Linked DNA regions of Homo sapiens: region 2 is linked to region 1. The links come from fine-mapping of genetic effects on gene expression. A gene starts in region 1. The other region holds a variant in brackets. All regions are shown on one strand. Distances are from middle to middle. Region 1 holds the start of WTAP (WT1 associated protein). Region 2 has its middle 29 kb from the start of PNLDC1.

The links.
Region 2: its variant is fine-mapped to the expression of WTAP in CD4 T cells (BLUEPRINT, PIP 0.95).

What each region holds. Positions count from the first base shown.
Region 1 is chr6:159,718,578-159,734,921 of GRCh38, forward strand. It overlaps WTAP (WT1 associated protein), which reads left to right and starts at 8,929. Exons shown (of 8, transcript NM_001270531.2): 1 at 8,929-9,126. It also overlaps a transcript of SOD2 not described here and the pseudogene RNU4ATAC18P. RefSeq lists enhancers at 8,140-8,737, 8,218-8,307, 8,658-8,787, 8,738-9,335 and silencers at 8,798-9,347, 15,111-15,371.
Region 2 is chr6:159,821,122-159,837,465 of GRCh38, forward strand. No RefSeq gene overlaps it. Among named protein-coding and RNA genes, the nearest start is that of PNLDC1, 29 kb to the left of the region's middle. RefSeq lists enhancers at 461-1,267, 9,384-10,117. The variant CAA/C (reference allele first, on the strand shown) is at 6,851.

The DNA of each region.
Region 1 (16,344 bases):
AAATGTTCACTAAATCTGAAAGATTAGATATATTGGGTTATGTTGCATTGCTGCTCACAGTAAAATCTTGTAAGTCAGTATAAAATCCACTAGATTAGAAAAAGAAAAGTAGGCTAGGAAGTTTGGTTTGGCTTCCCTATCTGTAAAACCACAACTGTCTATGCTTGACACAAACTAAGGTAAATAAATAATGTGTCTTAGGCTAATTGCTAACTGTGAATAGGAGATAACCTGGCATAGAAGAGTAGAAAGAGCATTCCAGGCAGAAAGAATGGACTCAGCAGAGGTACTAACTGGTGAAACAGCATGACATGGTCATAGTCACACCAGACGTGAGCTCTTGAGAGCGTCGTGGATTAACATTAACATTTTTAACCAACAACTCTGATAATCTCTCCAGGATCCCTGGATTTCTGGGTGCCAATAACAAAAGCTAGACTTACTGTTTTTTTTTTCCTCTGTACTTCTGCAATAGATTGAATGTTTGCGTCCACCCAAAATTCATGTTGAAATCTTAACCCCTAATGTGGAGGTAGGTGGTGAGGCCCTTGGAAGGGGATTAGGTCATGAAGGTAGGGCCTTCATGAATGAGATCAGTGCCCTTATAAAAGGGACCCCATAGAGCTCTCTTTTCCTGTTTTCACCACATAAGAGATAAGAGAAGTCGGCTGGCATGGTAACCCATGCCTATAATCCCAGCACTTTGGGAGGCAGAGGCAGGTGGATCACGAGGTCAGGAGTTCAAGACCAGCCTGGCCAACATGGTGAAACTCTGTCTTTACTATGTCTCTACTCATGTCTCTAGCTGAGTACGGTGGCATGTGCCTGTAATCCCAGCTACTCAGGCTGCTGAGGTGGGAAAATCGCTTGAACCAAGGAGGCGGAGGTTGCAGTGAGCCGAGATCGGGAGAGGTGGCTTGTGCTTGTGGTCGCAGCTACTGGAGAGGCTGAGACAGGAGGATCACCTGGGCAAAGGAGGTGGAGTCTGCAGTGAGCCAAGATCATGCTACCTCACTCCAGCCTGGGCAACAGAGCAACACCCTTTCTCAAAAAAAAAAAAAAAAAAAAGTTGCAGGCTAAGTATTAGGCTGATGGCAAAGAAGTGGCCAATTCACTTAATCTAACTCAGTATTATGGTTTTTTCTTTTATTTTCTTTTTTTTTTTTGAGAGAGTCTTATTCTGTCCCCCAGGTTGGAGTGCAGTCACGCGATCTTGGCTCACTGCAACCTCCACCTCCCGGGTTCAAGAGAGTCTCCTGCCTCAGCCTCCCAAGTAGTTGGATTACAAATGTGTGCCACCATACCCGGCTAATTTTTGTATTTTTTAGCAGAGACAGGGTTTCACCATGTTGGCTAGGCTGGTCTCGAACTCCCGACCTCAAGTGATCTGCCTGCCTCGGTCTCCCAAAGTCCTGGGATTACAGGCATGAGACACCATGCCCAGCCTTGCTTTTTTTTTTTTTTGGTGGGGGGGACAGAGTCTCACTCCGTCTCCCAGGCTGGAGTGCAGTGGCACGATCTCAGCTCATTGCAACCTCTGCCTCCCGGGTTCAAGCGAATCTCCTGTCTCATCCTCCGGAGTAGCTGGGATTACAGACGCCCGCCACCACGCCCGGCTAATTTTTTTGTGTATATATAAATATATATTTTTTTAGCAAAGACAGAGTTTCACCATGTTGGCCAGGCTGGTCACGAATCTTGACCTCAAATGATCCGCCCACCTCGGCCTCCTAGAGTGCTGGGATTACAGGCGTAAGCCACCGTGCCCAGCCTGTATGTACTTTTTAATACAGTAATATGTAAATAACTGTGTGTGTATGGGAAAGCTGTTTTTCATTTCTCCAAAAACTGCACCAAGGCAAAGCAAAGCTCTAGTTGATTTCGGTGTGTTGTGCAGGAGTTAGCAGTACTGCCCTCACTAGGTACCCATTGGACAGTAGTGCAACCCCAAGAAAAGGATGGTAGTAAGTTAACTTTCATCACGCGTTGATATTTCATTTGAAATGGTGACTTGAAGCTGGTTAGATACTGAAACTGAGACTATAGTATGCCTAACTCAGCTGCTCAATAACTATTTATTGCTTATAGTCTTACGACTTTTTTTTTAGAATAATTATCTTTGCTAGTACTATCAGATTTGCATGACAACCCTTTCTCTTGTATTCTCTGTAAACTGGAGGTTGTCCCACTATTACTGATACTAAATTTGATGGTTTGGTTCAAATGGTGACCACCAGATGGCTCCACTATACAGGTGTATTTTCTTTACCTTTTTTTTTTTTTTTTTTTTTTTTTTTGAGACAGTGTCTTGTTGTGTCGCCCAGGCTGTAGTGCAATGGCGCGATCTCGGCTCAGTGCAACCTCTGCTCCTGGGTTCAAGTGATTCTCCTGCCTCAGCCTCCCAAGGAGCTGGGACTACAGGCACATGCCACTGCACCCGACTATTTTTTTTTTGTATTTTTATTTTTATTTAATTTTTATTTATTTATATTTTTTAATTTTTTTTTTGAGACGGAGTCTCGCTCTGTCACCCAGGCTGGAGTGCAATGGCACAATCTCAGCTCGCTGCAAGCTCTGCCTCCTGGGTTCATGCCATTCTCCTGCCTCAGCCTCCCGAGTAGCTGGGACCACTGGTGACCACCACCACGCCTGGCTAATTTTTTGTATTTTTAGTAGAGATGGGGTTTCACCATGTTAGCCAGGATGGTCTCAATCTCCTGACCTCGTGATCTGCCCGCCTCGGCCTCCCAAAGTGCTGGGATTACAGGCATGAGCCACCGTGCCCAGCCGTTTTATTTATTTATTTTTGAGACGGAGTTTTGCTCTCATTGCCCAGGCTGGAGTGCAATGGTGCGATCTTGGCTCACCACAACCTCCATCTCCTGGGTTCAAGCAATTCTCCTGCCTCAGCCTCCTGAGTAGCTGGGATTACAGGCATGTGCCACCATGCCCGGCTAATTTTGTATTTTTAGTAGAGACGGGGTTTCTCCACGTTGGTCAGGCTGGTCTCGAACTCCCAACCTCAGGTGATCTGCCTGCCTTGGCCTCCCAAAGTGCTGGGATTACAGGATTACAGGCATGAGCCACTGCGGCTGACCTTTTTTTTTTTTTTTTTTTTTTTTGTATTTTTAGTAGAGATGGGGTTTCACTATGTTGCCAGGTTGGTCTTGAACTCCTGACCTCATGATCTGCTAGCCTCGGCCTCCCAAAGTGCTGGGATTACAGGCGTAAGCCACCACACCCAGCCTGTAATTTCTTTTACAATTAGGTAAGTAGCCTGTAGAGTGATACTTTGATGGCATTTCCCAGCAATCTTTCATCTAAAGGTTTTGAAGTCCATTGATAGTCCTTGTCTGAGTCAATTATTTCATTAAGGTTTGCATCATGGTTATTGTCTAATTCTATATTTTATTTTATACTTATTAGCTGGCATCCTATAGTAAAGAAGAGTTTTTCCTCATCAACTGGGTATAAACCACATTCTTTATTAAAAAAAAAAAGAAAAAAAAAGCAGGGTAGGTTGGGAGCAGTGGCCCATGCCTGTACTCCCAGCGCTTTGGGAGGTTGAGGTGGGAGCATCACTTGAGCCCAGGAGTTCAAGACCAGCCTGGGCAACATAGCAAGACCCCATCTCTAAAAAAACAAAAAAGCAAGCAAAAACACTTAGCCAGGTATGGTGGCAGGCACCTGTAGTCCCAGCTTCTGACGAGGCACGAGGATCACTTGAGCCCAGGAGGTCAAGACTGCAGTGAGCCATGTTTGTGCCACTGCACTCCAGCCTGGATGACAGAGCAAGACTCTGTCTTAAAAACAAAAACAAATGAAACAAAAAACAAACAGGGTAAATGCTATCTCCCTTTAATAACTAATTTTCAGAGTATCAAATTGGTGTAATAGACACTACCAATGATGGAAAAATAGTTTCCCTCTTCTCATTCTCTCTTCTCTGTACTAGAGAGTAGACTTTTATTTATTCAGTATTTGCAATCAATTGTATTCATTTTCTTTTTGACGCTAAAATTGCCCTAAATTTGCCCCCTGGGAGATCCTTCAAGCTGGCTCCCATGTCTCTAAAATTTATTTTTGAGAGACTGAAAATACAAATGGTAAATGGCCAGAATATACATAAAAACAGAATTCTGACCCATTACCTACAACAACTAGCCCAGTAAACCAACCACTTATTTACCATAAGTGTACTCTCAGCCTGAAAGCCAAACCTGCTATCAACCAGACTTGTAGGAAGTCAGACTGCTATCTCTGGTAGCAATCCAGGAAGCTAAATAATAACTTCTATGACAATCAGCTCAAAATGGCCAGGACTTGATTAAAACTTGACAGCTTCCCTACTTTTTGTCCTCACTTCTAGCTTATGCCCATCCAGAGAAAGCCAAATATGCTCCTTTAACCAAGACCATAGGATGCCAACTTGTAGTTAGCTTCCAGCTTCCCCATGCCAACAGCTTCCAATCAGGCATACCTGTGAAACCTTTCCTTTTGTCCACTGTAAAGCTTTCCCACTCCTCTGCATGCCTTTGAACCTCTGCTAAAACATAAGGGATGGTGGCTGACTCCCTTGCTACAGCAAGTTCTCAATCGACTTTGCTTTTCTCATTTGGTTTGCAATAAAATGCATTCTTTACAGTGACACAATTTGATGAATTTTGACAAACGTATACATTCCCACTAACCATGACACAGAACATTTCCATCACCCCCAAAAGTTCTCCCATTTTCCTTTCCAGTCAATTCCTTCTCTCTTCCCCTCCTAACCAACCACTGATCTGCTATCTACCACTATGGATTAGTGTTGTTTGTTCTCCTAACTACAGTTGGCATAGCCTCATTGGTCTAAGCACTTCCTCTGCATTCAGGCACAACGAAATACCTGGCTCATCTTGTACCTTTCCCGTCCCAGAGCTGGAATCAGCCAGTTCTCCAAAGGAGCTCTGGATCTTTTTAGTGGGAAATGGAATTTAGAAACCAAGATCTCAGTGTCAGATGTGCTCACTGTTACTGTAGGGTGCCCATGCCTATACATCCTGGTTCAGCCAGGACTGTTCCAGTTTTAATCTGAAAGTCCAGCATCCAGAGAAAACCCCTCTGTTTGTGGCAAACTAGAACAACTGGTCACCCTAGTGCTTCTAGGCCCTTTCAGTCCACAGAACTAGGACTTTTTTTTGCAGTTGAAACTTTTTTTTCTTTTTGATAGGGTCTGTTGCCCAAGCTGTAGTGCACTGGTGAGATCACAGCTCATTGTAACTTTAAACTCCTGGGCTCATTTGGGCCTCTCGCCTCAGCCTCCCAAGTAGCTAGGACTATAGGCACAGGCCACCACCCCTGGCTATTTTATTATTTTGTATTTTGTAGAGACAAGATCTCACTGTGTTGCCCAGGCTGGTCTTGAACTCCTAAGCCACTTTGGCTTCCCAAAGCACTGGGATTACAGGTGTGTGCCACTGCACCCAGCCCTCCAGTTTAAACTCAATACTACAGACTTTTTTTTTCTGAACTTCTTAAAATTCTTTATATTAGTTTCCACCCCCACCCCCGGATGAATGAACGTCTTAAAAATTGTTTTAAATTTTTTAAAAAATGGAGACAGGGTCTTGCTATGTTGCCCAGGCTGGTCTCAAACTCCTGGACTCTAGTGATCCTCCCGCTTTGGCCTATCAAAGTGCTGGGATTACAGGCATCAGCCACCCGGCCCTTTTCTGAACTTCTTTGATCTTGTGTTTGTATCTCATTCTCTCACACACTGCACATCTTTGTATATAGTAACATTAAAATACTTATGTTATCCTACCATATACAGTACAGAGTTTTAAAACCACAGTAACAATGTTACCATTAATCATAAATCAGTGAAGCTGAAAGCTCCTGTGCACTTTTTTCATCCTTAGAATACACAGTTGACCCTTGAACAACACTGGTTTGGACTGCCAGGGTCCACCTATATGTGGATTTTTTTCACCCCAACACAGATGAAAAATACAGTGGGGCGAGGGACGGTGGCTCACACCTATAATCCCAGCATTTTGGGAGGCTAGGTGGGAGGATCACTTGAGCCCAGGAGTTCAAGACCAGCCTAGGCAACACAGCTCTCTACTGAAAATAGAAAAAAATTAGCTAGATGTGCTGGCACATGCCTGTGGTCCCAGCTACTCGGGAGGCTGAGATGGGAGGATTGCTTGAGCCCAGGAAGTCAAGGCTGTAGTGAGCCATGATCGTACCACTGCACTCCAGCCTGGACGACAGAGTCAGACCCTGTTCTCAAAAAAGAAAAAAAAAAAGAAAAGCAAGAGAAGGGAAGGAAGGGAGGGGGGAAGAGAGGGAGGGAGGGAAGAAGGGAGGGAAGAAGAGAGGGAGAGAAAGAAAAAAAGAAAAGAAAAAGAAAGGAAAGGGAAGGAAGGAAGAAAACAAAACAGAAGTACAGTGGGATGCAAAACACACCTACACAAAGAACCAACTTTCCCTATGCTCAGCTCCGGGACTTTAGTATGCAGATTTCTGTATATGCTCGCAGAAGGTCCTAAATCCAATCTCCTGCATATAAGGAAAGACTACACTATCACAACACAGATACACTACTAGAGTACTGTGTTCAAAAGCTCAGAGGGGCCAGTGGTGGTGGTTCATTCCTGTAATCCCAGCACTTTGGGAGGCCAACCTGCAGGCGGATCACCTGAGGTCAGGAGTTCCAGACCAGCCTGGCCAACATGGTGAAATCCCATCTCTATTAAAAATACAAAAATCAGCAGGGGATGGTGGCGCATGCCTGTAATCCCAGCTATTCAGGAGGCTGAGCTGAGAGAATCGCTTGAACCCAGGAGACAGAGGTTGCAGTGAGCTGAGATTGCACCACTGCACTCCAGCCTGGGCAACACAGTGAGACTGTCTCAAAAAAAAAAAAAAAAACCCAAAGAATAATTATTTTTTCTGTGTATCTTAGTTATATTAGTTAACAGTTAAGTTCATTTGTTTCAATTTGCTTTCAACCTTAGGATTTACTTTGTTTCCTTTTTTATTTACTTTTTTGGCTATGTAAAACTAAAAGTTCAAAGACAGAGAAATCTTGTCTCCACCCCCCACTCTTTATAGGCAACTAAAAATGTTAAGTTTCCAGGATATCCTTCCAATTCCTCCCCGAAAATAAGCATATACACATAAATATTCATATTAAATATAAATATATATTTTTATGTATTTAAGTAAATACATAAAAGCATATATGCTTATTTTTGCTTTTGAATACAGTGAATACTTACTACACTTAAATATTTAAGTGAATACTTAATACAACCTGAGACTCATTCCAAAGCAACACACGATTATTTCCTGAATCTTTTTAATGGTTGCATTGTGTTCTACTGTATGGATGCACCATTCCCAATCAGTTCCCTATTAACGGATATTTGGGTTATCCCTAACTTTTGCTATGACAAATAGCACTGCAATAACCTTGTATACCTATTGTTTCCATGTGTGGAGCTGCACCTTCAGAATAAGGTTAGGGTTAGAAGTATAACTGCAAGGTATAAGAATAAACACAAGTAATTTTGTACTCCGTGGAACTTGAACCATTTTTCCACTCCCACCAGGAAAGGTAATTTCAACGTGTATTTCCATTGTAAGTGAGGTGGAGCGACTTTCTATGTTTAAAGACCATTACGGTATTTTTTCTGAGAATCATCTGTTCATGTCCTTCCCCATTTTCTCCTTTGGCTTTTGCACTTTTTGTTTTCAATTTTTGAGAGCTCTTGTGATACGAGTTGCAAAGATTTTCTCCAGACCGATCTGATTCACTGGAAATATACTACGACCATCTGGAATGTACTTTAATCTTATCCTAATAAATCACCTTACTACAAGACACTCCTTTGGGGATGAACAGGTTTGATAAAGCCGGCTAAGGACAGACCAATCAAAAGAATTACGTGCTCTTCTAGTAAGTGTTTAGAGACTGTTTCACGTTCTCCAGGTAACACCGCCATTACTCGGCGGTCCAGATGGCAGTCTTACTTCAGGGAGTCTACTCCACTTGCAGGACCTCTTTGATTGAGTTCACTAAACCTCACAGGGCCGCCTTCCCCGTGTTCCAGTTAGCAAGGGGCCCTCAACGCCGCGGACACAGCGCAACCTCCGACGCCAGAGAACAATAGCTCCTCGATGCGTCTCCAGAGATGTCAAGGAGGAACGAACCCAGCGGCCAGGAGACTGCGCCTCACGACTGATGAGAGGGAAGGCATCGGTTTCTAAGTTCTCAAAACTTACAGGTGAGCTTCTGCTAAGAGTAAACGCCCGCGGCTCGCCGCCCACGGCCTCTCTCTTGAGGTGGCACCTGGTCCTCCGACACGCGGAAGCATCACGGATGAGCGTCACGAACACAGAGCGGCCAATCACGCGCCGCCTTCGCCCAGATCCCTCCGCACGAGGCAGCCCCGCAGCCGCAGGTGGCCCCGGCGAGTACTTCCACCTTCCCTTCCCGTGATGCCCTGGGGCTGACCTCCGACCTCGCTGGCCCGCCCCTCCCCTCGGCCGCTTCCCTTACTGAGCTTGCTGAGCTCCGGGGCCCGCGGAGCTCGCGCCAGGCTCCTGGGAAAGGACGGGGAGTGTTACCGGGGAGCAGCTGCTCCATTGTGCCTCGAGGCCCCGATCGGGCTAGGCCGACGGCCTCCCTCCCTTCACCTTTCCTCTCCTGGCGGGGTTCGGCGGCGGGCGAGTGACTGCGGCCACGCCTGAAAGGCGACTCTCCTGTGAGTGGGCCAGAAGGCGAACATGGCGGAGCGGGGAGGCTGGCGGGAGGCGGGAGGCGGGAGGCGGGAGGCAGTGGCGCTGGCCTGCGGCGCGTTCGGACCGGCTGTGGGGCGGGGCAGGGCGGAGCGGAGCCGTGCGGCGGGGCGGGGCCGGGCGGCGGGGCCTGGTTTCCTCCCTCAGCGCCATTTTGTGGCAGCGAGACCCACAAATAAAGGGGAGCGCAGGGGTTGCGGCGGGACTAGGAGCGCGGCGGGGCCGGCGGCAGAGCTGTCCGGCTGCGCGGTGGCCCGGGGGGCCCGGGCGGCAGGGCAAGCAGCGCGGCCTCGGCCTATGCGACCGGTGGCGCCGGCGCGGCTTCTGCCTGGAGAGGTAGGCGCGGGCCGGCTGGCGGGAGCGGACGCGGGGGACCTCCGGGGCCTGAGGGCTGATGCGCAGCCGCCCCCGGCGGGTAAGGGGCGGGCAGGGCCCGAAAGGCCACACGGGCCTGGTGCGGCACCGGTCTCTCGTGAGCCGCTCTACCTTCCCGCCTGCGGGGAACACTTCCGCCGCTTCGAGGCCATTTTATCTCTGTCCTCCGTCCCCAAGGCCCGGGTTGAGAGGGGTGCTCTGGCGGCCGGAGAGACCGGCCACTCACGGAGGCCGGAGGATGCCCTCCCCGGGCTGAGCGGCGGCGCTCGTTTTTTCCTCGCCTCGGGGTCGCCCCCTTCACCTCCCTTGGGCCTCTCCTGAGGACCTGGCGGCACTAACGAGTTCAGCAAGGAAAAAAAGAAACATTCGTTCCCTACATTTCATGTCACGCAGTAGGATGTTACTACGTTCTCTTGTAGACTTCCATTTTTAAATGAGTATAAGCATTCTGAGGAAAGAAACTGAATTATTGCAGATTTTTGTGAAATCCAAGTCTTACCTTGGATCCCTGTGAGACAGTTACTAGATTTTTTTTTCACCGTTTTTCATAAGTCTGTGTACACGTAATGGAAAAGCCCGAGTTCTTGTTTTGATAAGAAAGTCACTTGGTTGTTTGATCCCAAAGGATTAGCTTAACATTATCAAGGACTAGCATAACTGTGATTATGTAAAAAAAACAAAACAAAACAAAAAAACTATTATTTAGTCTGGTAGGGAAATACTTCTATGAGTATGTTACAATTGGAAGTTGTATTTGTGCCTATTTTATCTAGTTTTAGTTAATTCCATTGCTTCGGAAGATAAGTGGACGTCATAGATCCATCGCAAGTTCTCGTTTTTTGGATTTTAAAATTTTGACCATTAAGTTTTCTACGATAGATAAACATGTTGTGGACATTTAAAACCGTAATTTAAAACTATGAGCGAAAAATCTTTTCAAGATGGATACATTTTAATTCATTCAAGTAGCATCTGATTAGCCAAGTCGGGGAAAGATTGCAGTCCGCAAAGCTGGCTTGTGATAAGGTTGAGGTTACATTTTAAGGGTTTGGGTAGGTGTGTTTCTTACAGTGCTTTTATATGTTAAGGTATCTTAAGCAGACACATGGTTTAAAAGTTCAGTATTTTTAGTACTTTTTCATTGGCAGAATTTGGACAAGCTACCAGAATTGCTAACTCCTAAAGGATAAAAGTAATAATAATAGTGTGTCCCAGGCACTGCTTATTTTTACATGGCTCTTTTATGTCTAGCTTTTCCAATTCAACGTTGAGTCATGTTTGCTGAAAATATTTTTGTGTATTGTTTGTCAGAAATAAGCTGGTAGAGATGAAACACAATGTGTAAAAAGCCCTGTGATGTGGAGATGAGCATTGTCACAATTTGTACAGTACATTAAAGCGTTCAAGGTCTCTTATGGTCTTGTATGTAGTATTGAATCCCCTTGAATATATTGTTTAGCAGTTTTGATCATTATGTATTTGCTTCTTGCTCCTCAAAATTGTACGTTAGTTAGTAGGTCCTTCAGCAAAAGAAGACTGAAGATAGTATTTTGGTTTTATTCTTGTTTTTAATTTTTTTAGTTGTCTCCAACTTTTCTGCCTCTAAATATTTTGCTTCTTGTAGTTACTAAGCTTAACACAGAAAAACTTTTCAGTATCTCCACAATAGTAAACTTCATTGTGTATTGTGTATAACAAGATGTTCCATCTGACTAAAATATATTGCTGTAAATATTTTCTGCCTTTGAAGATGTAGTTAATAGAATTTAATCTTTTCTAAGTGCACATTGAAGTTGCCTTTTATGTTCATATTATGTTCATATTTTATTTGAAAAATCTATAGCATTTTTATTGTGCTGAAAGCATTAATATTTGCAGCACTTTGTGAGACAGGCAAAATTATCTTTTTGCTGACTTGGAAACTGCAAGAGTTAAAAGACTTGCTTGGAATCACACATGGCAGATAGAGGATAAGGAAAAGATGGCCTTTCAGTTCCTCATCAGTACCTTGCTACTACAGTGTCTGCAGATTGGTGTCTTACATTCAGCTATGATTTGTTCGCCAAGGTACCGTGTCTTCTTACTGAAGTTGTTTTGGCTGGCGCTTGCCTCCGTTCAGAGGGAACTGAGTTACCTAACTTTATGATGCTAAGAGCCAGGAAGGTACTGGGATCTGGGATGCTAGGCACCTAACCAGTCTAGACTGAACTCCATACTAAGCTGTTTTTCTGTGTTAAGGCATCAAGAGTAGATGGTGGTCCTGATTTTCTGAGATATATTATCTCTGAATTATCTACATAAATAACTGAAACTTTTATGTAATTTTAAAACTAGTCAATCATGTTACCACCCTTTTGAGGGGCACCAAATTTGAGACCCTTACCCCCAATTTATTAATTAATAGCTGTTTTAATCACCTAATAGCTGATCACCTAATGACTAACAGTCATTTTCATCCTGGAAAATGGGAACTAACTTTGACTTTGAAAAGTGCTGTTATTAAATGTGTGATTCATAAGAACTGAACATATTTTCTTTATTATTTTCCTTCAGGATTCAACTTTAATTGACTCCAAATGATGTTATGGTCATTCTGTTTTTCTGATACGAGAATAGATTGTTCTGAGAACCTAGAATATTCATTGCCTTTATGAATCTAGAATTGACTTTAAATTTAGGTTATTGTGTTTGTCATTTGCGCTAAAAAAAAAATTGCCCTGGGGAATACCAAACTTCTCGGTACATTCGTGTGGTGTGAAAGTCAAAATTGCCAATTAGGTTCTATTTTGACCAAATAGTTGAATGTTGTAGACAGTTGTAAATTTTGAACCTGTTCTAATTTGCCTTTTGCCAGATGGCGCATTTAACTTTGTGGCATATCATCGACTTTCAAGGAAAGATTTACTTTTCATCAGATTAAAGTTGAGGAAGGATTTTCTTTCTAAATACTGAGGCTCTGAATTTCCCAAGTTGGATACCCCAGACAGCTAGAGTGATCTTAAAAGTGACTCTGAGAGTTGACTTAGGAAGTGTAGACATTTATCCAAAATCTGTATTTACTCCTGACTTACATTACAAATACAGAGTTTTATTTTTAAAGAAAATTTCAATAAAAAGCACCATTTAATTAAAATCTACTCACCATCAAACTTTTTAAAAAGAACATAAGCCAATGTCAGGAGTTGGAGACCAGCCTGGCCAACATAGTGAAACGCTGTCTCTACTAGAAAAAAAAAAGAAATACAAAAATTAGCTGGGCATGGTGGTGCGTGCCTGTAGTTCCAGCTCCTTGGGAGGCTGAGGCAGTAGAATCGCTTGAACCCGGGAGGCGGAGGTTGCAGTGAGCCCAGATCATGCCCGTGCACTCCAGCCTGGGCAACAGAGAGAGACTACGTCTCAAAAAAAAGAAAAAAAGAAAAGAAATTTCAATAATTGCAGGCTGGGCATGGTGGCTCACAACTGTAGTCCCAGCACTTTTGGAGGCCCAAGCAGGAGGATTCCTGAGCCCAGGAGTTCAAGACCAGCCTGGGCAACATAGCAAGACCTCATCTCTACTACCAAGAAAAAAAAAACAAATTAGCTGGGCGTGGTGGTTCATGCCTGTGATCCCAGCTACAAAGGAGGCTGAGGCAAGAGGATCAGTTGAGCCCAAGAGATGGAGGCTGCAGTGAGCTGTGATCGAGTCACTGCACTCCAGCCTGGGCGACAGAGTGAGACTCTGTCTCAAAAAAAGAGAGGAAAAAAAGAAAATTTAAGTAACTTCTGTTTAGAATCCTAAATATTGGAGATGCCAAAGAATTCTGCAGTAAGTGTTAGAAACAGTCGGGAGGACAGTATGATTATTATCCTCAACCTGTGGATTATCTCTTCAGGTTTTTCAAGAAACACTGAGTCTGTGTTTTTGATGGGGAGAAGAAACTATTAATTAAATGCCCATTTTGTGCCAGTTACCATGCTAAAGATTAATGTCTGTCTTCAGAAATAGCACAGTATTTGGGCCCTGGTTGTGGTAATTCTTTTTGAGATGGGGAAACTGAGGTGCAGAGATTTTGCTACTTTTGTATTTGCAAAGTTGACAACCTGTTTCAGAATACCAAGGTTATCAGAACTTTCTTCATGTGTTTCTCAGTCCTTTTAATGCCCTTTAAAAACAGATTATCATCTCATTTTTTGCTAAGCTTACTGTTAATTTTATTTTAGTGGAATAAGAATATGGATACCTGTCTTTAAGAAGAGAGTAAGCAAGTAAACCTAGGGAAAGTATCAGGTTGTAGAACCACATACCGATGATCCTTGCCAAAATCCTGGCATAGGAATTTGAACCCTGGTGTATGAAAAGTCTGCCCTTTGCATACTCAGGTTTCGCATCCCGTGAATGCTGTATTTTTGATCCGAGTACTGTATTTTTTAATCTGAGTTTGATTGAAAAAAATCCAAATATAAATGGACCCATGCAGCTAAAACCTGGGTTGGTCAAGGACCAACTATAATAACTTTTATAAGCTGGAATTTATATTGAACAGCATCCATGATACTTTAGTATTACAACTAAAGTTGTACATACTGAGTAGGTAGGATGCCTTAGTAACTAGATAAAAGGTATACCACCTAGCCATAGTGATAAATATAGCTGTTTTCAAACTGTCATTCACAGATCTCTACCACAGTACCTGTTACGTGAAGTTCCTGGTTGGTTCTCAAAATTTTATGTTCGTATATACATAGATACAGATACTGATATACCGGTTAAATATGTACAGCTCAAATAGCTAAAATTGTCTTTAAGATTTTTTAAATTAAAAATATTATTGGCCGGGCGCAGTAGCTTACACCTGTAATCCCAACACTTTGGGAGGCCAAAGCAGGTGGATTACCTGAGGTGAGGAGTTCGAGACCAGCCTGGTCAACATGGTGAAACTAAAAATACAAAAATTAGCCGGGCGTGGTGGCAGGCACCTGTAATCTCAGCTACTCTGGAGGCTGAGGCAGGAGAATCGCTTGAATCCAGGCGGTGGAGGTTGCAGTGAGCCGAGATCGCGCCATTGCACTCCAGCCTGGGCAACAGAGACCGGGCGCAGGGGGAGGGGGAGTGTCTCTGTCTGCTTCTTTCTCTCTCTCTCTCTCTCTCTCTGTATATATATATAGTGTGTGTGTGTGTGTGTGTGTGTGTGTGTGTAAAATTGATATTTAGCTCCAGACAAATGGGAAATTACAAGGAAATGCCAGATTTGATATCTGGGTTCTAAGACTTTGCAGCCTAATGCATGTGTCATGCTAAAATAGAAGTAGTTAGACATGTGGAGTTAAATATGGTGATGGTTTCTGAGATGATTAAAATGACTGCCACCAGGTTAAGGTAGTTACAAAGCAGCTTTCTGTAATGGCAGCAGAGATAATAAACTGGGCAACAAGGGAGGAACCAATTTAAAGAAAAAAAGAATAATATACATTTTATATCATAGTAATATGGTTTATGTCTTCATAGGACAGAGTGACTTGCTCAGTGAAACAGACTGTATACAATTAGCTCAGAAACAAATACTGAGGTTTTTATCTGTTTGCTGTATCCCTTGAGAAAGATTAAAGAGGGAAGGCAGGGTGCAGTGGCTCACGCCTGTAATGCCAGCACTTTGGGAGGCCAAGGCAGTTGGATTGCTTGCGCCCAGGAGTTCGAGACCAGCCTGGGCAGCATGGCGAAACCCTGTCTCTACCAAAAAAAATTACAAAAAATTAACTGGGTGTGGTGGCACATGCCTGTAGTCCCAGGTACTCGGGAGGCTGAGGTGGGAGGATCACTTGAGCCTGGGAGGTCAAGATTGCAGTGAGCCATCATCGCACCACTGCACTGTGGTCTAGGTGACAGAGCGAGACTGTCTCAAAAAAAAAAAAAAGCCCAGCACGCTGGCTCATGCCTGTAGTCCCAGCACTTGGGAGGCTGAGGTGGGCAGATCACCTGAGGTCGGGATTTCCAGACCACCCTGACCAACATGGAGAAACCCCGTCTCTACTAAAAATACAAGGAAGTTAGCCGGGCGTGGTGGCGCATGCCTGTAATCCCAGCTACTTGGGAGGCTGAGGCAGGAGAATTGCTTGAACCCAGGAGGCGGAGGTTGCGGTGAGCCGAGATCGCGCCGTTGCACTCCACCCCGGGCAACAAGAGCGAAACTCCATCTCCAAAAAAAAAGATTAAACAGAGAAAGAAGCAAGCCAGTAATCTAAGATCAATTTATGATTTTTCCTCTAAATTCTGCTTTCTTCAACACAATTTACTTAATCTGAAAACCAGGGTTTAATAACAGTATGATTAGAATGTTTCATTTATAAAGTGGAGTTGAGATTGTACGTAGTATAAAACATGCTGTTGGAAGATTATCTCCTTTTGAGGAATCTCAAAATCAAGTGGGAGAAATCAAGTAGTCTTGGTGTGTGTGTGTTTTGTTTGTTTGTTTTAATGAGAGACAGGGTCTTACCACATTGCCCGGGCTCGGTTCAAACTCCTAGGCTCAAGCAGCTCTCCTGCCTCAGCCTCCCAAAGTGCTGGGATTACAAGTGTGAGCCACCACACCAGCCTCAAGTAGCTTTCGAGATGATGCCACAGCACTCCAGCCTGGCAACAGAGTGAGACTCCATCTCAAAAAAAAAAAAAAAAATTCAGTTTAACATACCAAGCTTTTGGTCAAATTTCTAGTAGTTTAGAATTTATAATAAGTATGGGTAATTAAAATAAACCATAAACACTTTAAAGTAAGGGAAGATTCATGAGTATACTATTAGAAATAATAACTAGGGCTGGGCGTGATCCTTCCACAGGTAGTTCTAGCTACTTGGGAGGCTGAGATGAGAGTATGACTTGAGCCCAAGAGTTCAAGACTAGCCTGGGCACTATGGTGGGTCCCCATCTCTTAAGAAAGAAAGAATAGGAAAAACTAAATTAGTATAAGAACTAATTACTTAATTTGTATAAGTTATGAATATGCCAAATGCAATTTAGATGCTTTTTCAAAAGAGCACTGGTACTCAGAACCCTGATTCAATTTTTTAATCCTCATAGAATTTTTATATAAAGATTTTATGTTTGTCAGGTTAGCTCTTCATGTCGTATACTTTTTTTTCCAACCTTGTATTTTAATGTGGTGTTTATGTTTATTACACATTTTTTCTTTGTCTTTTTTTTGTGTG
Region 2 (16,344 bases), 100 kb after region 1:
GGGGATCTCGACTCGGCTGGGCTCTTTGCTCAACCTGGAGCTTCACTTGTGGGCTCTGCAAAGCTGATTGAAATTTAGCCTGGGAGACATTTTTCCTCTAGAGAAACAAGCGTTAGTGGTGGTAGCTGTCCACAGGGGGGTTTGGGAACTGCCTTTCCAGAGGTCGCACCCCTTTCCTGAGGGGTGAGGGGCCCGGTGGCCCTACAGGATCCTTTGCGACTTATGATCTGACCGGCCACGCCACACTCGGAACAGCAGCTGTTTCCTCATCTGCTCAAACCGCATTGTAAGGGAGTGTCAGGGTGTTGGGTATTTTGTTTGTTTGTTTGGTTGGTTTTTTTTCATTGAAAGTAACTTGTTTTGAGACAGGGTCTCTGTCGCCCAGGTTGCAGTGCAGTGGCACAATTGTGGCTCACTGCGGCTGCAGCTTCTACCTCCAGGGCTCAAGCAATCCTCCCACCTCAGCCTCTCGAGTAGCTGGCACCACGGATACATGCCACCACACATGACTAATCTAAAACAATTGTTTTTGTAGTGATGGGGTCTCCCTATGTTGCCCAGGCTGATCTTGAACTCCTGGCTTCAGGCCATCCTTCTGCCTCAGCCTCCCAGAGTGCTGGGATTACAGGCGTGAGCCACCAATCCAGGCTGGTTGAACGTAACTTCGCTGAGGAGAATTCCACTTTTCTTTCATGGGCTTTGGGCTTGACTGTGTTTGGGTAAGCCCTGCTTTAAGTACTCTTGCGAGCCCCTCTCAGCTGCCTGTCTTGAGGGCTGTTTGGCATCCCAGCGGTGGAGCAGGGCCGGGCGCTGTAAGCTGTTCCACAGTGCTCTGGAGTTGGAGGCACACAGCACTTTCATAAGGCCTTGTTCATTCACCTCTTCTCTGTTCAGCGTGTCTTCACTGGGCACCTGGTGCATGCCCTTCGGTGCACCATGCTATGGGCAGGGTCCTCATGTCCATGGTGACCTGGCTGACCCCACAGCCCTGTGTCGTGCCTGCTGTTGCCTAGGGCAGCCCTGAGCTGGAAGAGCTGGAAGCTGTGCCACAGCCAGGCTTTGTAGATCAAGTTTACTTTCTGAGCAGTGCTCAGGCGCTGCTGACCAGGGCACTGCTCAGAAATGCTGAGTGGTTCGGGGCCTCCTGCCCTTAGCAGCTCTTGCCCTGCCTAGATGGCGGTGAGGGAACGAGGCAGGCTCTGAGTCTCTCCCAAGGTGCTCTCCCCGCTCCCCTAGCTCTTCAAGGCTGTGTTTTACCTGCAGGTCTCCCTCCAATCAGTAAATGAATAAAACCGAAACAAGGCAAAAAGCCAGCCATTCTTCTCTCCTTCCCTAACTCTATCCCCTCTCCCTGTGGCCCAGCTGGTCTTTCCCTCTCCACCCAGGCTTTCGAGCACGTGCTTTCCATCGTTCTCGCCCCTGCTGCCCGGGGCCCAGCCAGTCATTAGGGCTCCCTGGCTTCCCTCTCACTCCTCCATGGCCCTGGGTGGTGCAGCTCCTCTGGACGCTCTCCCCAAGTCTCTGGTCACTCTCTTCTCGATTGCCCTCAACTCTTCCCCTGGCCCTTTAGATGTTGGTGTTCAAGGACCTGGCACCATCCGCCGTGACAGTGCCGGGCCCCAGCATGACTCTGAAGTTTGTTCTCAGCTAACGTCTCTCTCCTGGGTCCCAGTTCACCTACTGAGCCTCTAGATTTTCCCACAGACACGCCAAGCTCCACACAGGCAGGATGGATCACTTTCCCTCCAACTCACCTGCCTCGATGGAGGTTGTGAGCACCTCCCCAGCTGTAGCTTCCAGCTCCTAAACTCTCCCCACCTCCCTGCCCCGCCTCTGAGCAGCCACTCACTTGCAGCTCCTAGACTCTCCCCGATCCCTGCCCCTCCTCTGAGCAGCCACTCACTGGCAGCTTCTGTCTTCGTGCAGTTCTCCTGGCTGTCCAGACCCCCTTCACATTACCTAGACAGTTTCAGGGTCTCCTCAGTTCTGGGAGAGCCCTGCCTGCCTCCTCTTCTCCCTTTTCTGCTGTGGCCCTCACGGACATAAGTGGGCTCCAGAAGGCAAATCTGGTCATCTCTCCTGCCCAAGCTCCTTCTGTGGATTCTGCCCCAAGTCCACAAGCCCTTTCTCTCTGTATTTGGGGCCCTGCTGTGTCTCTGGTCCCCCACGGGTGTCTGTCCTTGGGATCACTGTTTCTCTTCCTCTTCTCTGAGCCACTCACCACTTGACCCAGCTCAGTGGACATCTCCTCTAGGTTCTAGGTCACTGTTGCCTGCTGTACCTGTCAGGTGTCGGGGGCTCAACCTGTCTGAGTGCCTCTTGCCTGTCCCTGCTAGAGCACTTGGTGCTGTGTGGCAGTGTCCCCTGGCCTGGCCCTGCACAGGTGGGCAGTGGAGTTCTGGAACCTGCAGGGGCCCTCAGTATCCTCACAAGCCAGTGCTCCCCATGGCTGGAGGCTCTGCTGTGTTTTTCGACAGGGATTTGAGTTTGTTGCTGCTGCTCAGGTGAGGTGCTTTGAAAATGGCCTTGAGTAACTGATGTGCTTCTGCAGCAGAGGGAAAAGACAAATGGCAGCCTCCGAATCTGCCCAGCCCAGGGTGTTCTCACTGACCCACACGACCTGATCACTTAGAAGTGATGTGATTTCATGTCCTTGTTCTTACAATTTTGGTTCTTGTTTGTGGTTTAAATTATTTCTGTGAGATTTTTGGTATGAGAAAGAAAGTGACTAGAAATAGCCTTAAATGATCTTAAAATTAGCTAATCTTTCTCTTTACATCCTTCAGGTACTAAGTTCAGGCTGCCGTAACAAAAATACCATAGACAGGGTGGCTTAAAAAACAGAATCTTATTTCTCACAGTTCTGGAGGCTGGGAACTCTGAGAGCTGGCGCCAGCTGAACTGGCTCCTGGAGAGTGCTCTCTTCCTGGGCTTGTGGAGGGCTGCCTTCTTGCTGCATCCTGGCGTGGCAGAGACAGCGAACATCTCTCTCACTTCTCTTCTTGTAAGGGCACTAATCCAATAAGAGGGCCCCACCCTCATCACCTCATCACCTCCCAAAAGGCCTCACCTAAGACCATCCCCTTAGGGGTTAGGATTTCAACCTGGGAATTTGGGGGAAACACAAACATTCAGTCCATAGCAAGTATCTTTCCTTTTCTCTGAAAGATACAGAGGTTCATATCATTTATTGTTACTACAGAAAGCTTTTCTCTTTCTCTGTGGTCTTTTTAGCTCATGAGACAGCAATACTAATTTTCTTGGCATGAAGTATGTGGTAGAGGTTGTAAATTTTGAGATACTTTCTAAGGGGAAAAAAAGGCTGTTACTTTCTAACCACTAAAATCCTTTGTGTAATTTTCTATAAGTTTGTCTGAAAATCCACTGTAAGACTAATTAAAACCTCATTTTTTTGTATGGTGGTGACTTGCCAAATTAAAAATTATCTGGGGCCAGGCATGGTGGCTCACGTTTGTAATCCCAGCACTCTGGTAGGCTGAGGTGGGCGGATCACATGAGGTCAGGAGTTCGAGACCAGCCTGGGCAACATGTTGAGCCCCTATCTCCACCAAAAAATACAAAAATTAGCTGGAAGCAAGGTGGAGTGGCTCACATCTGTAATCCCAGCACTTTGGGAGGCCGAGGTGGGTGGATCACCTGCAGTCAGGAGTTCGAGACCAGCCTGGCCAACATGGTAAAACCCTGTCTCTACAAAAATACAAAAAATTAGCCAGGCATGGTGGCGGGCACCTGTAATCCCAGCTACTTGAGGGGGCTGAGGCAGGAGAATCACGTGATGAACCCAAGAGGCAGAGGTTGCAATGAGCCGAGATCGCACCATTGCACTCCAGCCTGGGCAACAACAGAGAAACTCCATCTCAAAAATAAATAAATAAATATAAAAATAAAAATTAGCCAGGCGCGGGCATGCCTGTGCTCCCAACTACTCAGGAGGCTGAGGCCGGAGAATCGCTTGAACCCGGGAGGCAAAGGTTGCAGTGAGCCGAGATCGTGCCACTGCATTCCAGCCTGGGCAAGAGAGTGAGACTCTATCTCAAAAAAAAAAAAAAATTATTTGGGAAAATATAACAATCAGGAAACTTCTGAAAAAGATAAGTGACCAAGATGACTTGTCCCACCTGCCGTATGGGAGTACATTGATCCAAGCTGTGCATTTTCTACCATTTTCACATCGTTGAGATTGGGTTATTTCTTACAGTCAATGGTGTGTGTTAATTTAATTGGTGTTTTCTTAATGTGCACAAAATTGGTGCCTTTGTAATTGCATGTTGATGAGACTATGGCGTAAAGTTATAATTAATACATTGTGAGATTGGCATAGTAATAGAATCTAGGTAAGAAATAGACTGAGTGCATCTGGGAATTTTGCTGTGATAAAGGTACCATATTAAATCTGGGACAAAGAGCCGTTTAGAAAAAAAAAGCCAATTCTTTAGTCCTTACACCAAAATAAATTAGACATGTCATATATTTAAGGTTAAGAAAGGCAAATCATATAAAAGGAAATGAAAACGATTTAATCTTGGGATGAAGAAGGGCTTTCTAAGCATGAAACAAAAGCTTCAAGTGGTAATTAAATAGTTGATTGATTTGGTGCAACCATGTCTCATGTTGTCTGAGACATCCTTCACTGGAGAGTGACCACTGTTTTGTGTTCCACTAAGGGATAAATGCTGCCGGGGAGGTTTTTGTCCCTCATCCTAAGATACACCCTGATCTCAAAGATGTTGAAATGGAGGGAAAGTGCGTCTTGGAATGGGTGAAATACAGAAAAATACGCTTACTTACAACCAAAAATCTAAAAACCACCCAAAACTACTTGAACATGGGAAGCAAGCATTGTCACGGTGGGTTAGTTGCAGGACAGTTTTGGCAAAACTGGGGTGGCCTTGCTGCTGCCACTGCAACTGCTACTCTAGTTTTTGGCGGTTTACCCTGAGGGGGTTACGAGGATGCTGCTGGTGGTGGTGGACGAGAGGCAGGAGCCGGCGCTGGGGCCGGGTGGTCTGCAGACTCTCGTCCTCTCCTGCGCCTCCTCACGTCGGTTAGAGCCATCGGCCCTCCTCTGTCCCCTGGTACTTTCAAGTGCTTATCATAATGTAGAGAGGTAGATTTGTGTCCCTAACTCCCCAGTGTGCCTTCCCTACAATGCAGCTTCTCTCCAGAGCGGGGTGCCTCCTGCTCATGTGGGCTGGCAGCACCACTGAGGGCCTGGGGCTGGCCCAGTCCCTGCCCACTGTCTAGTGGGGCGACAGTACACAAGCAATGGCTGTAAAGGTCAGCATGTCCTGGCTAGGGAGGGGCTGGGGCGTCCCCGCCAAGGGCACCTAATCCAGAACAATTCCTAAGGATGAGCGACAGGGAGGATGTTTTTGTCATGAGCACAGGAAAACCACTGTGTTAGTCTGTTCTCCCACTGCTATAAAGAAATACCCAAGACTGGGTAATTTGTAGGAAAAGAGGTTTGATTGGCTCACAGTTCTGCAGGCTGTACAGGAAGTGTGGTGCTAGCATCTGCTTCTGGGGAGGCCTCAGGAAGCTTTTACTCATGACGGAAGGTGAAGCAGGAACAGGCTTCAGATAGTGGATGCAGGAGAAAGAGAGGGGGCGGAAGGGGAAAGTGCCACACACTTCTAAACAACCAGATCTCGGGTGAACTCAGAGCCAGAGCTCACTCATCACCCAAGGGATGGCCCAGGCTGTTCATGAGAACTCTGGCCCCGTGAGCCGGACACCTCCCACTAGACCCCCACCTTCAGCATTGGGGATTATAATTCAACATGAAATTTGAGGGGGGACAAATATCCAAACTGTATCAACCACATACAGTGTGGTCATGAGTACACTGGAAAAACCTGAGAAGGTGCACCCCAAAATGTTAGGGAATGACATTGCTGAGCAATTACTGCACACCCGATGCTGAATAAAGTCCTTTGCAGTTATTAATTCATGTGCTCCTCACAGTAACCTTCCAAGTAAGTACTCTCACTGCCCAGTGACCTTCCAAGTACTGTCACTGTGCCCGCATAGGACGGAGACGCCTGACACCCACAGGGCGGGTGCTTGGCCTTGGCACGCCCCGGCCAGCGGTGGGCAGCTTCTCTTGATGCCACACTGCCTGCAGGGTCATGAGTTATTTCAATTTTCTTTTTTTTTTTTTTTTGTTTTATATTGGAGTTGTCTATCGTGAATATATATGGTGTAATTTCAAACTGGTTTAAAAAAACAAGGCAAGTCGGGCAGCATCCACAGGACTGCAGCTCGTGCCTCAGGCTCAGGCTCAGCCCCGGCGCCTCCTGGCGGAGTGGGGCCCTGGGGCTCTCCCAGGCTGCTCTTTGGCTGCGGCTTCTGTTCCAGCTGCAGCCATGTGGCTCTTGTGTCCCACCTGTCATCTTGAGACTCGTCCAGCTCTTGAAACCACAGTTGGTGCTGAGCTGCTGCAGCACTCCAGGTATGGAGGGAGGAGTGGTTCTCAAAAGACTGTTTCTCTTCTCCATAGGAACAGAGCTATAGAGTATTTGTCCTTTCTTGCACTGCTATAAAGAAATACCTGCCAGGCACGGTGGCTCACACCTGTAATCCCAGCACTTTAGGAGGCCGAGGCATGCAGATTACTTGAGGTCAGGAGTTCGAGACCAGCCTGGCCAACATGGTGAAACCCTGTCTCTACTAAAAATGTAAAAATTAGCAGGCGTGGTGGCATGAGCCTATAATCCCAGCTACTTAGGAGGCTGAGGCAGGAGAATCACTTGAACCCAGGAGGCGGACATTGCAGTGAGCTGCGATCATGCCACTACACTCCAGTCTGGGCGACAGAGTAAGATTCTCT[CAA/C]AAAAAAAAAAAAAAAAAGAAAAAAAAATACCTGAGACTGGGTAATTTATAAAGAAAAGAGGTTTGACTCACGGTTCCCTAGACTGTACTGGTAACATGGCTGGGGAGGCCTCAGGAAACAAAATCATGGCAGAAGGCGAAGGGGAAGCCCGCACATCTTACATGGCTGGAGCAGGAGGAAGACAGAAGGGGGAGGTGCCACACTCCTTTAAACAACCAGAGAACTCACTAGCACAAGAGCAGCAGGGGGCCGTTCACCCCCAGGATCCAATCGTCTCCCACCAGGCCCCTCCCCCAACACTGGGGATTCCAATTCCACGTGACACTTAGGTGGGGCAAAGAGCCAAACCATATCAAGCATCATCTGCTGCCTGTTTTTATGGCCAAAGAACTCGAGTGATCTGGATCTTTGGATTGCTGACCTTTAAATAACTCGGACTGTTGTTCTGTGATGGAATCTGGGGGATGGTGGTGGTTGGCAGGAAACACTAATAACCTGTAATCAATCATCTCTCCCCTCTTCTAACACCTGTGATTATTCCTGTGTAGGCAAGAAAAGGTGTACTATATAAGGTATTCTCAGTTATCCTTTAAAAAGACTAATAAAATATGTTAAAATGTTATCTCTCGAGGGGCTCCTGGTGATTTCGAATTTCTTTGTCATATATTTTTCTGTACTATAAAAATCTTGAGTGTGCATCCCTTCAAAACCAGAAATGTACTATTTTTAAAAAATTAGTACATAGAACTTAGCATCTGAGTGATGACAGTTATATTTTAAAAGTGAAATCGGCCATGCGTGGTAGCTCACGCCTGTAATCTCAGCACTTTGGGAGGCCGTGGCAGGTAGATCACCTGAGGTCAGGAGTTCAAGACCAGCTTGGCCAACATGGTGAAACCCCGTATCTACTAAAGAAAAACACAAAAATTAGCTGGGTGTGGTGGTGAGTGCCTGTCATCCCAGCTACTCAGGAGGCTGAAGCAGGAGAATCACTTGAATTCAGGAGGCGGAGGCTGTAGTGAGCTGAGATCGCGCCACTGCTCTCCAACCTGGGCGACGAGTGAAACTCCATCTCAAAAAATAAAAAATGAAAGTGAACTTAAAGGCCAGGCACAGTGGCTCACACATGTAATTCCAGCATTTAGGCTGAGGCAGTTGGATTGCCTGAGCTCAGGAGTTCCATCCCAGGCTGGGCAACATGGCAAAACCCCATCTCTACCAAAAATACAAAAAGTTAGCCGGGCATCATGGTACCCACCTGTGGTCCCAGCTACTCAGGAGAATGAGGTGGGAGGACCACTTGAGCCTGGGAGGTAGAGGTTGCAGTGAGCCAAGATCACGCACCACTGTACTCTAGCCTGACAGAGTGAGACCCTGTCTCCAAAAAAAAAAAAGAAAAGAAAAAAAAAAGTGAACTTAAAGCTGAAAGAAAACGCACAGAAGTCTTGGTGGGGGCTACCCAGAGTAGGTGGACCATATGGTTTTATTTTCTGTATATTTAGGGATCTTTTTACCATTTTTTTTTTTACAATGAGCATGTATTTCTATCACTTTAAACATGAAAATGCATTAAAATTTTTTTGTTGAAAATAGAGCTCTCTTGTCCTGCTTGTGGGGACAGCCCTGTGAAATATCTTTAGTTCTTATTTAATTGCATTTTACTGGACACAGTCATGCCTACTTCTTTACATTAGTTTCCTGTTTCCTGCTGTAACAAGTCATCACAAATGTAGTGGCTTAAAATAGCACACAATTACCATTTTGCATTTCTGGAGGTTAGAAGTCCAACACAGCTCTCGGGGCTAAAATCAAGAAGTCGGGGCGGAAGGGCTGTGTGCCCTTCCAGAGGCCTCAGAGAGAAGCTGCTTCCTCCCCTTTTCCAGCTTCTAGAGGTCACCAACATTCCCAGGATCGTGGCCCTGTTCCTCCATCTTCAGCAGCAGCAATGTGGAATCTCTCTGATCGATCTTTCTGTAGCTTCGTCTCCTCTGACCACAGCAGGGAATGCTTTGCCATGCTTTAAGACCCATGTGATTAGGCGGACCCTCCTCCTCGGATGACCCTGGATAAACTCCCCATCTCAAAGCCCTTAATTATGTCTGTAGAGTCCCTCTTGCCACATCAGGTGCTATACTCACAGGTTCTGGGGTTAGGCTGTGGGCACTGGGCATCTTTGGGGAGCCATTATTCTGCCTGCCACATTCTCCAGCGACACACTGATGAAGCACCTGCCCAGGTAAGTGCTATTCCTACCTCATACTCCCCAGTGAGTGGGGTTAGCCCTGCGCAGTGAGTGGGGTTAGCCCTGCCCAGGAAGCAGGGTCTGATGCGGCTGAGCTGGTTACAGGCCTTGCAGACTGCGTGGCCACCACGGTGACCCAGCACCCACCATCCACCCAGTCTCCTGCGTCGCTGTTCTGGAAGCTCTGCCGCGGTGCTGGATGGCTTCACCCGATTTCAGCATTCGGAAGCTCCCCTAGAGGTCCCTCATTCTGCCCCATCCCTGCCCCAGCTCTTGCTATTGTTTGCCTTTATCCCTTTTTCCTACAGGAAGAACCAGATTCAAACATTTGCCTGCTGGCAATAGTGTTTCTGAGGAAGACACTGTGAGGGGAACTGCGGGCCGAGCCTGCTCTGAGCGCAAGATAGTAGGAGAGCTCTCTGGCACACAGCTGCCTACTCTGTCCCTACTCTCCCCTGGGAGAGAATCCCTGGTGTAGACTTAGTCCTAATCCTCAGAAGAGCTCCCCCAGTGTGTGATGTGGCTCTGCCAAAGATCGTGAGAAAGTGGAGATCCAAAAACAAGTATTCTCTGGGCAGCACAAGCCAGATAAAGTTGTTCTCAAGTTGGCTCTGGCTGGGTTTGTGGAGGGCACAGAGGCTTTGACATGTGAGCTTGTAAAGATGCTTTCTTTCCCATCCCAGGGAGCTGCCCAAACCTTCCTCGCTGCTGAGGCCGTGTCCTCAGCCCAGTGGAGCAGCAGCAGTGGCCACTGCCTGCGTGACCCTGCTGAGACCTGTGCTCGTAGTCAGATGGGATGTTCTGAACTCCTGGAAGCCAGAGGTTATAGTTTTTTAAAGACTAAAAAAGGAATATTGTATTGTGTAAAACAGAAAAGGAAGGGAAGCACTCATTCTCCCATTCCCTTATTGATCAATTTGGGCTTGTTCCTGTCTCTAAAATCTGCATGTGTTTTATACTGGAAGACCCTGGAGCGCAGGCTTTCATTCCATGCAAATGTACCTGCTCTGTACCAGGCACTGTTCCAGATGCCCCGGCTGCAGCCATTAAAGCAAAGATTCAGGAATTTGCATTTGTGTGGAGTCATTAGACAAGCAACGAGATGAGAGTGCCTGTGAGGTGATCAAGTGCTGGTTACAGAGAAACTTGGAGGAGAAGTCGGGTGCTGCCTTCCAGTGCTCAGGCAGGGTGCGCAGAGAAGGGGATGCCTGAGCAGAGACCTGGCAGAGATCAGGGCTGAGACACCTGCCCGGCTGTGGACAGAGCTCCAGGTGCTGTCTGGCCCAGGGCCCAGTGGAAGCACCTGGCCCTGCAAAGAGGCTCCAGCCACCAGGATGGCTGAGAGAACTTGGGTGGGTGAGGCAGGAGCCAAGGCCAGGGAAGAAGTGGAGGGCCGGTCAGGTGGGGCACAGAAGGCACTGGTGATTGCTTTGACTTCTCAGCAGAGGTGTGAGCCATTGAGGGGCTGCCAGCTCAGGGTGATAAGGTCTGGCTGACTAGGGAAGGAGGAAGGCAAAAGAGGTGGCTGTGGCCCAGTGGGGAGGTGTGCAGGGGCTCTAGATCTGGGTGTATTTTGACAGTGGAGCTGCTATGATGTCCTGACAGAGTGAATGTGGAGTTAAGAGAAAGAGGGGTCAAGAATGATAAAGTTTTGGCCTGAGCCAAGGTGTGGAGTTGAGGTAGAAGGTGGGACTTGACTCCGGAGGCAGGGCTCAGACACCGGGCCAAACTGAGGACTAGCTAAAACAGGTTATAGGGGAAGCAGTTTTCCAGAAAACACACCCATCAGTGTGCCATGTCAGTTTACCATTGCCATGGCGACACCCAAAAATTATTGCGCCTTTCCATGGCAATGACCCAGTGATCAGGAAGTTACCACCCTCATCCTAGAAATTTCTGCATAAACCACCCCCTAATTCATGTATAATTAAAAGTGGGTGTAAATATTAGTGCAGCCCTAAATCTGAGCTGCTCCTCTGGACACACTTCCTGGAGAGTGCCCTGTACCGCAAGGAGCAGTGCCTCTGCTGCTCCTGGATGCTGTGGCTTCAATACAAGTTGCTGTTGAACACCACTGGGTAGCTCTTGAATTCTTTCCTGGGGGAAGCCAAGAACCCTTCCGGGCTAAGTCCCAATTTTGGGCTTCACCTGTCATGCATCAGAGTTGCCATCTGGTTGTATCTAAATTGTTTTATCTCTGTGCCTGTGAATGACACAATGCTGTTGTTTCTCCTTTATTGGGGATTAGGGAAAGCAGAAAGGTGGAAGAAGGAGATGAGAGCCTCATCCAGAGCTGCAGGGCCAGGCTGAGGGCCAGGGTGCCTGGGTTCCCTAACAATGCACACCCCTCCCTTTAAATTTCCTATTTTGTGGGCACAATGGTTCACACCTGTAATCCCAACACTTTGGGAGGCTGAGGCAGGAGGATTGCTTGAGCCCAGGAGTTCGAGATCAGCCTGGGCAACATAAGGAGACTCCATGTCTAAAAATATAATAATAGTAATTTTCTTATTTTGTGTGTTTTATCATATATGCAATATATTAGTACATGGAATACATGTATGTACATTATTAATACATGTGCACAGCCAGGGTTTGTCCTCAGCTTTGTTTCAGTGATAAGGAAATAGGATTGAAATAGTTTGGAGACCGTTTGCTCTAGTAATTTCCCTGGGTTCAACGTCAACATGAGGAGTTTGACAGGGATTTATGAGAAGCCTTGGAGGCTGGTCCATGGTTAGCCACACCCAGACCTGTAGGCACAATGTCTTCAAGATCTGATGAAGTCTGACGCTACCTCCTGAAAGGGACACCCTCAATCCTGGCCGTCTTCCCTTCAGCTATTTTTTGGGTGGAGCAGAAAAGAGGTTTAACTGGCGGGTGAAATTGCACATACTTCACAGGTGGTGTCTCTCTTCTTTGGCTGGCAGTAAGGGAAGGAAGGCCCTCTGCAGCATAAAGCACACTCATCATGCCTAATCAGCGCAAGCAGGCAGGAAACAAGTGGAGCCTATCAGAAGGCAGAGTTGGACACTCCTAGCATGAAAAAAGCATTCAAAGTATTTATTCACTTATTTTATTAGAGACAGGGTCTCAATCTGTTGCCCAGGCTGGAGTGCAGGGGCATGATCATAGCTCACTGCAGTCTTCAACTCCTGGGCTCAAGTGATCTCCCTGCCTCAGCCTCCTTAGTAGTTGGGACTACTGGCACCCACCACTGCTCCCTATTAATTTTGAAAAAAATTTAGAAATGGAATCTTGCCATGTTGCCCAGGCTAGTCTCAAACTCCTGGCCTCAAACAGTCCTCCTGCCTCAGCCTGCCAAGGAGCTGGGATTATGGGCTCAAGTCATCATGCCCAGCCAAAGTACTTATATTTAATATAAGATTTCAATCAGTTCTATCTGAGGACCTAATTGGAGAGGGCCCTGGCACTTAGGAAGTCCAGCTCTATAAAAATTGGAGCTGCAATTCTCCAGCGGTTAGTCAGAGTCCAAGCTTCCACGATCCTGCTCACCAGATTTCTACCATGGGAAGCACATTCTGAAATTTGCCTCACTGCTTGTTCTAGTGGCCAGTCTGAGAACCTCCACAAAGCTTCACTCTAGAGATTTAAAGGGTTATAAATACAGCCAAAATGAATTCACAAACCATGAGCTCAAATGTGCACATGTAAGTTCCTTTAACTCAATTTAATTCCTTGCTGCAAGCTCCCATTCTGCCCAAGCAGAACCCATAATTTAGGCAATACCAGATAAACGCTGCCCATTCAGGGCTGTTTCCCTTTGGTGTCCACCCTCCTCCCTACCCTAAGACAGAGGCTAAGCTCTGAGAGGCAGATGCAAAGGGCATGAAGTTGGGGGAGAGCGGTGGGGGGTCAGTTTGGACTTCTCTCTGTCCTGATTCTAAGCCAGTAGCCTTTGAGGTGTGACTTACCTGGGTGGCCTTCATATGCTCCCACCTGTACATGGGCTGGGAGGCAGGGGCTTCCTCTGGGATCTCTGTGGCGATGGGCCACCCAATCTCTGCCACTGGCTGCCCTTATCTCAGCTGAAAGGCCCCCAAAGGTGCTTCAGATCCCTCATATTCTCTCTTCTTCCCCTCCTCCCCACTGCCGCCCCCCACCCCTCCCTCACCCCCCACCATTTCCTGTGGCAGGTGGAAGGGCTGTCTGGCTTCCTGCACACCCCTACAGCTCACTCTGGATACCTCTTGTAGCCTCTCTGTGAATGTCACATGAGGGACCCTGGTGAGGCTGCCATGTCAACTACCTGAGTTCTAGAAAGACCAACCAGGTGACAGGTACGCTCTGCGTGAGAATCTATTAAGAAAAAAATTATCCAAAATGTGGATGTCAGGCAAAAACAAGCCACATGACTTTTTTTTTCTTTTCTTTTTTTTTTTCTGGAGACAGGTTCTTGCCTTGTTACCCAGGCTGAAATGCAGTGGGGCACAACTGTAGCTCACTGCAGCCTCAAACTCTTGGGCTCAAGCAATCCTCCCATCTCAGCCTCCCAAGTAGCTGGGACCACAGATGTACGTTACAATGCCCATCTAATTTTTTAGGTTTTTTTTTTTTTTTTGTAGAGATGAGGTCTATGTTGCCCAGGCTGTCCTTGAACCCCTGGACTCAAACTCCTGGCCTCAAGCAATCCTCGCACTTCAGCTTCCCAAAGTGCTAGGATTGCAGGTGTGAGCCACTGCGCCCAACCCACATGACTTTCATTGTCATACTAACAAGCTCACCTGGAGTCGTTTTATTTTAAGCCAATGTAACTTTGATTGGCTTATTAGTTTCTACCGATTAGAGGCCAAACATTTTACAATCCTGTAAAGTTAGGTGTTCACTTTTTGAAAACTGATAAGATGCAAATAATTCTTGTCCAATAACAACGAAAATAGTTCTTGCTCATAGGAGAGGATAACCCCAAAACCTGTGGTTTTATTGTCCTATAGGACACTAATCAGTCTATATGTAGCTTTGCAATTTCCCTCTAGCATTCTCTTTGTTGTTTTTGTTCACTTACCAGTTCACACTTCAGTCTCTCACCTCCCCTTTAAACTGGTTCCCATCGTTATTGCGAGGCCTGGAGGCACCTATCTTCATTCTCACTCCTTCCCTGCCCAATGCCAGGGATCCAGCAACAGACAAAAACCCAAGTTTTCCTAACTCTTTCCTGGCTCCTTTTTCCTCCACCTGAAGTGGAGGTGCTGCAGGTGCTGCCTGAGAAGCCAAGAGGCCTGGAGGAGAGGAGGAGGGAAAGCAGCTTTGTTGAATAGGACAGACTTGCAAATCTTTCCTGTTTTATTTTTAGCTTAAAAGCCAATAACTGATTTCTTTGTTTCTCTGGTTCGCCCATTGCTCACCACGTCTAAATGAGAAAGTACATTTCAAGGCCACCATACAATTGTCCAAAAAGGCCTTCAATATGGAATAATCCACTTTATTATCCCATGGCTGCTCTCCTGCCTGGCTGCCCAGATGGGGTAGGGGGAGCCTACGGTAAACAGCACATGAGAGAAGGAATATATCAATGGATCTTCACATAATGCTAATACATGAGATTTGTATCTGAGAAGGCCCCGGGCAGTCTGTTTTCTTCTCAATTTCATTGCCATTGGCCAGGAATTTTCTTGAATGCCCAACTGTCTTTATCAAGACAGGAATTGGGATACAATTTGCTCAAACATTAAAGAAAATGGTTGTTGATTTGCCAGTAGTCAGTTGGCAAGAGAAGAAAAACTTTATTTCTTTATTTGTAAAATGGCAATAATGTAACAGGATACATTTTGGAGATTTTATTTTTCTATTATTATTATTATTATTATTTTAGTTTTTAGTAGAGGCAGGGTTTCACCATGTTGGCCAGGCTTGTCTAGAACTCCTGACCTCAGGTGATCCACCCGCCTCGGCCTCCCAAAGTGCTGGGATTACAGACGTGAGTCACCGCGCCTGGCCATTTTGGAGATTTTAAAGCTGAGGTTCCTGCTCCTCCTATCACAGCTCTTTATCCACCATAATCAGGAATATTAACTGTCCCAGGGGGATGGTAGGCTATAGCCTCTACCAAAAAGTCAAATTCTTGGCTTCTGAGTTTAATCTATGTAGGATTTTGGAAGACAGAACAGAGGCAACTGTATGAAAGCCAGAGTGCTTTTGATTTGCAAAGCTGACTCTTGAGAGAGGTTTTACTTCATGTTTTTCACAATGCTGAAAACTTGGCATGGCATATCCCCAGCAGAGCCTCCTGGATGCTGCCCAGTTTGTGAGGGAAGTCATGGGTAGAAAAATGCACGATGATAAGGAGCCGTTTTCCATCCAAGAAGAGATACGTGCTCGAGCAGCCGCGCGGGGGAGGCCAGGGCTGGAAGGCCCAGGGTCTCCGAGGAGCTGTAGAAAAGAAGCCTGGAGGGACCCCGGAGCAGAAAGGCTACTGGGGGCTTCCCAGGGAGTGGGTGAGACCCCACAACAAACAGGAACGGCGAGGCGTGGCGGGGGGGTGGGCCGAGGGCAGGAGCTGCTAAGTGTCCTGCGACTTTCTATCAGGCAGCTTCGCATCAGGAAACCATAACCCACTTTAGGGAGTTGGATGCGCTGTTTCAGTTCTACAGACGATGGAAGAGCCAAAAGGCTGCACAGGGAACGAGACGGGCCCCAGAGCTTAGTAACACCCGAAATCCCCATGGCCCCTTGGGAGGGCTGGGAGGGAGGCGGGTGCTGCGGGGGCTGTGGAGGTCCTGCAGGTGCTGCCTGAGAAGCCAAGAGACTGGGTGAGAATGGATGACATCAGCTGGCTCCCCCATTCCTCCTGCCCCCACCTCCCCGCAGGGCATCCCACTGACTGAATCCAGCTGACGGTGGCTGGCAAGTCACCTGGGGCGGGGGGCCTCCAGACAGAGCGTGAGAAAAGTGAGATGTGGCTCTCAGGGCGCAGAACTAGCTCGCCCCAAGGGGACCACATCAGCTCTGGGGGACCAAGATGCAGCAGGGGAGCGCCACGCGAGCAGGAGCCCACGCCAGGACGTAGGATCTCGGCAAGGAGGCAATGCATGACTGTGAGGACCAGCAAGAAACAGATTTCACAGAAGCCAGCAGAGGAAGCCAGAGGACCGGGTGCTCCTTCCCTGTGGCAGGAGCAGGAACCATCCGCCCTCCCCAGAGGGCTGCCATCACCTCCAGGGAGACGAGGAAGCGTCGGAGGAAGGGACTCCTGAGAAACTGAGTTCTGAATTGGTAGGACTGAATATTT